Homo sapiens: one gene and its partner. The protein of the gene in region 1 purifies or fractionates together with the protein of each later gene. This does not show direct contact. Each region holds a gene or a part of one and is shown on either strand. Other genes may lie near its edges.

Region 1 (4,031 bases):
TGTCAATTTTTGCTTTTGTTGCAATTGCTTTTGGCATCTTCATCATGAAATCGTTGCCCATGCCTGTGTCCAGAATGGTATTGCCTAGGTTGTCTTCCAGGGTTTTTCCAGTTTTGGGTTTTATATGTAAGTCCCTCATCTTGAGTTGATTTTTGTATGTAGTTTAAGGAAGAGGTCCGGTTTCAATCTTCTGCACATGGTTAGCCAGTTATCCCAGCACTATTTATTGAATAGGGAATCCTTTCCCCATTGCTTGTTTTCATCAGCTTTGTTGAAGATCAGATGGTTGTTGGTGTGTGGTCTTATTTCTGGGCTCTGTATTCTGTTCCATTGGTCTATGTGTCTGTTTTTCTACCAATACCATGCTGTTTTGGTTACTGTAGCCCTTTAATACAGTTTGAAGTCAGGTAGCATGATACCACCTGCTTTCTTCTTTTTGCTTAGGATAGCCTTAGCTATTTGGGGTCTTTTTGGGTTCCATAGGAATTTTAAAAGAGCTTTTTCTAGCTCTGCAAAGAATGTCACTGGAAGTTTGACAGGATTAGCATTAAATATATAAATTGCTTTGGGCAGTAGTCAAGTCTAGAGGCAAATCAGGAATGCAACCTCATTCACAATTGCCATAAAAAGAATAAAATACCTGGAAATACAGTCAACCAGGGAGGTGAAAGATCTCTACAATGAAAACTACAAAACACTGCTCAAAGAAATCAGAGAAGGTACAAACAAATGGAAAAACATTCCAGGCTCATTGGCTAGAAGAATGAATATCAAAATGTATTAAAGGCTTAAATTTAACATTTGAAACTGCAAAAGTCCTAGAAAAAAACAGAGGAAAAACTCCATGACATTGGTCTGGGGAATGGTTTTTTGGACATAAACCCAGAAGCACAGAAAACAAAAGCAAAAATACATGAATGGGATTATATCAAACTAAAAACTTTCTGCACAGCCAAGGAAACAATCAGCAGAGTGAAGAGACAACCTATGGAATGGGAGAAAATATATCCAAATCATGTATCAGATAAAAGGTTAATATCCAAAATATATAAGAAACTCAATAAGAAAACAACCCCATTAAAAAAAAAATGGGCAAAAGAGCAGGATGCAGTGGCGTATGCCCACAGTCTCAATTACTTCAGAGGTTGAGGCAGGAGAATTCTTGAGCCTAGGAGTCCAAGTACAGCCTGGGCAACATATTGAGACTCTGTCTCTAAATAATAAAATGAATTTTAAAAATAATCGTTTTTTAAGAATTGGACAAAGGATCTGAATAGACATTTCCAAAAAGAAGACACACAAATTGCCAAGAGGTATATAAAAAATGCTCAACATTACTAATCATCAGAAAAATGCAAATGGAAACCAAAATAAATTATGACCTGTTAGAATGGCCATTATTGAAAAGATAAAAGTGTTAAAAAAAAATGTGAAGAAAAGGGAATCCTTTGTATACTGTTGGTGGAAATGTAATTAGTATAAGCATTACAGTATGAAAGTTTCTCAAAAAATAAAACTACCATATGATCCTGCAATCCCAATACTGGGTATATATCCAAAGGAAATGAAATCAGTAGTGAAGAGAGATCAGGACTCCTATGGCCATTGCTGCATTGTTCACAATAGCCAAGATATGGAATCAACCTAAGTATCCATCAATGGATGAATGGATAGAAAATGTGGTATATATACACAATGGAATGCTATTCAGCCCCATAAAAGAGAGAAATCCTGTCATTTGTAACAACATGGATGTACCTGGAAAACATTATATTAAGGAAAGTAAGACAGGCATAGAAAGACAAACACCACATAATCTCACTTACAAGTGGTGTGTTAAAAAGTTGAACTTACAGGCCGGGCACGGTGGCTCATGCCTGTAATCCCAGCACTTTGGGAGGCCGAGGTGGGCAGATCACGAGGTCAGGAAATCGAGACCATCCTGGCTAACACGGTGAAACCCCGTCTTTACTAAAAATACAAAAAATTAGCCGGGTGTGGTGGCGGGTGCCTGCAGTCCCAGCTACTAGGGAGGCAGAGGCAGAAAAATGGCGTGAACCCGGGAGGGGGAGCTTGCAGTGAGCTGAGATTGCACCACTGCACTCCAGCATGGGAGACAGAGTGAGACTCCATCAAAAAAACAAAAGAGGTGAACTTATAGAAGTAGAAAGACAATGATGGTTACTAGGGGATGTGGGGACACAGTGGGTGGGGTGGATGGGGAGATACTCATCAAAGTATATACAGTTTCTGTTAGGAGGAATAATTTCAAGAGATCTATTGTACAACATGGTGTTGCTAGTTAATAACACTGTTGTATCCTTGAAAACTGTTCAGAGAATACATTTTAATTGTTATCACCACAAAAATGTTAAGAATGTGAGGTAATGCATATTAATTTGCTCAGTTAAGCCATTTCACAATGTATACATATTTCAAAATATATTGTACATGATAAATAAATACAATTTTTTGTCAATTTAAAAAACTAATTTTTTTTAAAAATTAAGTGATTTGTCTAAGGCCACTCAGTCAAAAGGCTGAATTAGGCTGTGAACCCAAGCCAACTGACTCCCTAGCATTTACTCTTAGCCATAATACAAACTGCTCTGTTTTATTAACAATATATTTTGAATATTTTTCCATGTCAATAAATGTACATGTACCCAAGCTATTTAATTATTGCACACTATTCTACTGGTGGTTTACAATGCTATATAGAACCAACCTCCAGGTCATATACATGTAGAATATTTCTAGTTTATTTCATTATTAAAAATGAATCTACTATGAAAAAGAAAGATACCAAATGATCAAATAAGCATTTAAACAAATTTTTAAACATGGTAGCTGTCCAAAAAAATAAAATGAAATACCATTTTTTAATCTTTTCTAATAAACTCTGACATCTAATATGGAAAGAGGGATAAAAAAATGGCACTCTCTTCCATTGATGACATAAATGTAATTTCTTTTTTTTTTTTCTTTTTTTGAGATAGGTTCTCGTTTTGTTGCCCAGGCTAGAGTGCACTGGAGTGATCTTGGCTCACAGCAAGCCTCAACCTCCCAGACTCAAGTGATCTCACCTCAGTCTCCCAAGTAGCTGAGACTACAGGCACACTCCACCACACCCAGCTAATTTTTGTATTTTTTTGTAGAGACGAGGTTTCGCCATGTTGCCCAGGCTGGTCTTGAACTTCTGGGCTTAAGTGATCTGCCCATCATGGACTCTCAGAGTGCTGCAATTACAGGTATGAGTCAGTGTGTCTAGCCCATAAATGTAAATTCTGACTGCCACGTGTAAGATAAAAATGTGTCTATCATGTAACTACTTAAATAAGGAACCTAAAAAACCTCTTGCTCAGTGCAAACATTTCATTTCAAGGCAAAACTATTCATAACACAAAAGAACTTCAGTCTAAAGATCCACCAATAAATAGAATATGGCAGTCATATTAAAGGAACATGTGAGAGTGATAAAATGAATAAATTAGATTAACTTTTCTGTCTATCACTACCTGAAAAGATCTTGAAAATAATGTTGGATGGAAAAAAACAAGATACAGAAAGAGCTGATACTGTTATAATTTTATTTTATTTATTTATTTTTGAGGTAGAGTCTCGCTCTGTCGGCCAGACTGGAGTGCAGTGCCTCACTGCAACCTCTGCCTCCTGGGTTCAAGTGATAATCCTGCCTCAGCCTCCCGAGTAGCTGGGACTACAGGCGCCTACCACTACGCCCAGCTAATTTTTTAATTTTTAATAGAGACAAGGTTTCACCAAGTTGGCCAGGCTGGACTCGAACTCCTGACCTCATGTGATCTGCCGGCCTCAGTCTCCCAAAGTGATGGGATTACAGGCGTGAGCCACAGCACCCGGCCCCATCTGTTACAACTTTAAAACAGACACACCAACAGTGCAATATGGCTAACTTGATTTGCAGAAAAACTTCCTGGTACAGAACACCTAAAACTACAGTAGAAAATAGAAAAACTTTTTTAAAGCATGACTAAATAGTCTATAAAAGAGAA
Region 2 (3,500 bases), on another chromosome or scaffold:
CTTGTAATCCCAGCACTTTGGGAGGCCGAGGCAGGTGGATCACCTGAGGTCGGGAGTTCGAGACTAGCCTGGCCAACATGGTGAAACCTTGTCTCTACTAAAAATACAAAATTAGCCAGGCGTGGTGGCACATGCCTATAATCCCAGCTACTTGGGAGGCTGAGGCAGGAGAATGGCTTGAACCAGGAGGAGGAGGTTGCAATGAGCCGAGATCGCACCATTGCACTCCAGCCTGGGCAACAAGAGCGAAACTCCGTCTCAAAATAAATAAATAAATAAATAAATAAATAAATAAATAAATGTATTTTAAACAGTCACATCTTCCTGATATACAATTTGTAAAAAATTATCCTACAGTAACTAAATCAGACACTCAAAATATATCGCAACATGAACAACATGTTACCTCATCAACCTTCACGGAATTTTTGGGAGGTGAGTCCTTTTTTGGTGCTGCATAGACTTTGAAGGTGAGCAAGCTCAGGCTGGCTGGCCCCACGGACCTCTGAATTACCTGAAATGCAGAAGCAATCTTAAACCTCTCTATGTTACAGACCGAATGTGCAGAACATGAGCATATTCATAACCTCAGCCACTCCCCACCCTGAAAGGCTTACTGTGCTTTATTTTATTTTTATTTATTTTTATGTTTTCAAGATGGAGTCTTGCTCTGTTACCCAGGCTGCGGTGTAGTGGCGTGATCTCAGCTCACTGCAACCTCCAACGCCCAGGTTCAAGCGATTCTTCTACCTCAGCCTCCCAAGTAGCTGGGATTACAGGCGTCTGCCACCACACCCGGCTAATTTTTGTATTTTTAGTAGAGATGGGGATTTGCCATGTTGGCCAGGCTGGTCTCGAACTCCCGACTTCAGGTAATTCGCCCGCCTCGGCCTCCCAAAGTGCTGAGATTACAGGTGTGAGCCAGTGCACCTGGCCTACAAAATATATTTTTTTAAAAAATCAGCCAGGCATGGTGGTGTGTGCCTGTAGTCCCAGCTACTCAGGAGACTGAGGTGGGAGAACTCTTGAGTTTGAGGCTTCAGTGAGCCATGATCATGCCACTACACTCCAGCCTGGGCAATAGAGTGAGACTCTGTTTCACACACACAAAATAATCGCTCCACTAAAAAAAAAAAAAAAAAAAAAAAAAAAAAAAGATGGGCTGAGAGGAGGAGAGTTATGGTTTATTAATTTAATTGTGAATATAAAAAATGTGCTGGACGCAGTGGCTCACGCCTGTAATCCCAGCACTTTGGAAGGCAGAGGCGGGTGGGTGGATCACCAGGTCAGGCATTCGAGACCAGCCTGGCCAACATAGTGAAATCCCGTCTCTACTAAAATTACAAAAAAAAAAAAAAAATTAGCTGGGCGTGGTGGCGGGCACCTGTAATCCCAGCTACACAGAAGGCTGAAGCAGGAGAATCACCTGCACCTGGGAGGTGGAGGTTGCAGTGAACCAAGATTGTGCCACCGCACTCCAGCCTGGGTGACAGTGCGAGACTCCACCTCAAAAAAAAAAAAAAAAAAAAAAAAAAAAATTCAGACCCCTCCTGCGAAGGCCGTGGCAGTTTTCTAGGAGGGACGTTGATCTCCTTAGGTTGTATCCTGGTGCTGCTGGTTCTGCCTAATAATTGTGATGGGCACAAACCACATGAACTAATGTCAGCACTAGCTGGCTAATCTGTATCGTGGAAGCAAAAGAAATCTGTAGCAAAACTGCATTGAAATTAAGACCTCAAGATGCACACTTAATACTTCAAGATGTATCAATTGTTTTTAAACCAGTTAAAGTAACAACCACCCTTTTTTTTCTTAATGGCTTTCAGCTCTTTATTTGCTTCTGAAATATGGGAATTTGCAGCCATACGTTTCAACAGATATTTTTGTTATATTTTAGCTGGCATTACGTTTTGTATTACAGAATAGCCTCATCTTTCACATTACAGGCACTGCAAATCTCAGTAATATGATTTCCAAGATGCTAAATCATGCCTAAATAGTTAGAGAGAAATCAATCACTCATTTATTTTCCACCTCTCCTCCATCCATTTCCTTTTGTCTCATTTGAGCAGGAAATAAACAATTATTGAGCATGCCTTGTGTGTTAGGCACAGCCATAGAAATAGGAATATGGAGTAAGACATATCCTCACCCTGAAAGGGCTTCCATTCTGGTAGGAAGAACTTGATAGATGTAAATAAATGGACAAACTTTTTTTTTTTTTTTTACACAGGGTCTCACACTGTTGCCTAGGTTGGAGTGCAGCAGCAGGATTTCTGCTGCACTGCAACCTTCCCATCCCAGGTTCAAGCACTCCTCCTGTCTTGTCTCCCAAATAGCTGGGACTACAGGCATGCACCACCATGTCCAGCTCATTTTTGTAATTTTTGTAGAGACAGGGTTTTGCCATGTTGCCCAGGCTGGTCTCAAACTCCTGGATTCAAACGATCCACCCACCGCGGCCTCCCAAAGTGCTGGGATTATAGGTGTGAACCACTGCACTTGGCCTGGGACAGATTAAAAAATAAAATAAGGGAGGCTGAGGCACAAGAATCGCTTGAACCCAGGAGGTGGAGATTGCAGTGAGCCAAGATACTGCCACTGCACTCCAGCCTGGGCAACAGAGCGAGACCCTGTCTCAAAAAGTAAATAAATAAAAGAAAAGTGATACGGGAGGGGCAGGCAGGGAAATGCTGGGTAGAGAAGGGCGTGGTCCCTGGCTAGGGCTCCACCCCTGGGCCTGTGCCCACCAACCTAGGTGAGGACAGGCATTTCTGTTTTTGTGCCCAAATATCGTATTTCCCAAGACCACCCTGGCCCACCACACTCCCATCTTGTGCCTATAAAAACCCCGAGACCCTAGCGGGCAGGCACACAAGCGGCTGGACGTCAAGAGAAGCAGAGGCAAGGAACAACATACCAGCAGAAGAACACAGTGACAGACTCCGGCAGGCCACCAACAGCAGAACGGCAGGACAACGCGGAGTTTGGCTGAGGGCGGTCAGAGGAGAGCCTGGCTGCTAAGCGGCCTGACTCCAGGGGAAAACCACCTTCCCACTCCATACCCCTTCTGGCTCCGTTTCCATCTGCTGAGTGCTACTTCCACCATTCAATAAAACCTTGCACTCATCCTCCAAGCCCACGTGTGATCCGGTTTTTCTGGTATACTCAGGCAAGAACCCTAGGATACAGAAAGCCCTCTGTCCTTGCAATAAGGCAGAGGGTCTAACTGAGCTGATGAACACAAGCTGCCTACTGACAGCAAAACTAAAAGAGCACACGTAACACACGCCCACTGGGGCTGCAGAAGCTGTAAACATCCACCCCTAGACGCTGCCATGGGGTTGGAGCCCACACTCCCCACGACCTGCCCATCTGCCTGCTTTCCCTAGGGGTTTTGAGCAGTGGGGCACCTAAGAAGTGGGCCACACTCCCATCACATGCCCTGTAAGAGGGACAAGGGAAATTCCCCTTGTTTCAAAAGCATGAATTCTCCCGGC

The links.
Region 2: the proteins of PARPBP (region 1) and APOO purify together in Homo sapiens (affinity purification with mass spectrometry; one large-scale study listed by BioGRID and IntAct). This does not show direct contact.

What each region holds. Positions count from the first base shown.
Region 1 is NC_000012.12:102,126,355-102,130,385, reverse strand, and holds part of PARPBP (PCNA-interacting partner), read right to left. Parts: intron 3,240-4,031; exon of another isoform or gene 3,087-3,239; intron 1-3,086. UniProt on the Homo sapiens protein: Required to suppress inappropriate homologous recombination, thereby playing a central role DNA repair and in the maintenance of genomic stability.
Region 2 is NC_000023.11:23,880,439-23,883,938, forward strand, and holds part of APOO (MICOS complex subunit MIC26 precursor), read right to left. Parts: intron 515-3,500; coding exon 407-514; intron 1-406. UniProt on the Homo sapiens protein: Component of the MICOS complex, a large protein complex of the mitochondrial inner membrane that plays crucial roles in the maintenance of crista junctions, inner membrane architecture, and formation of contact sites to the outer membrane.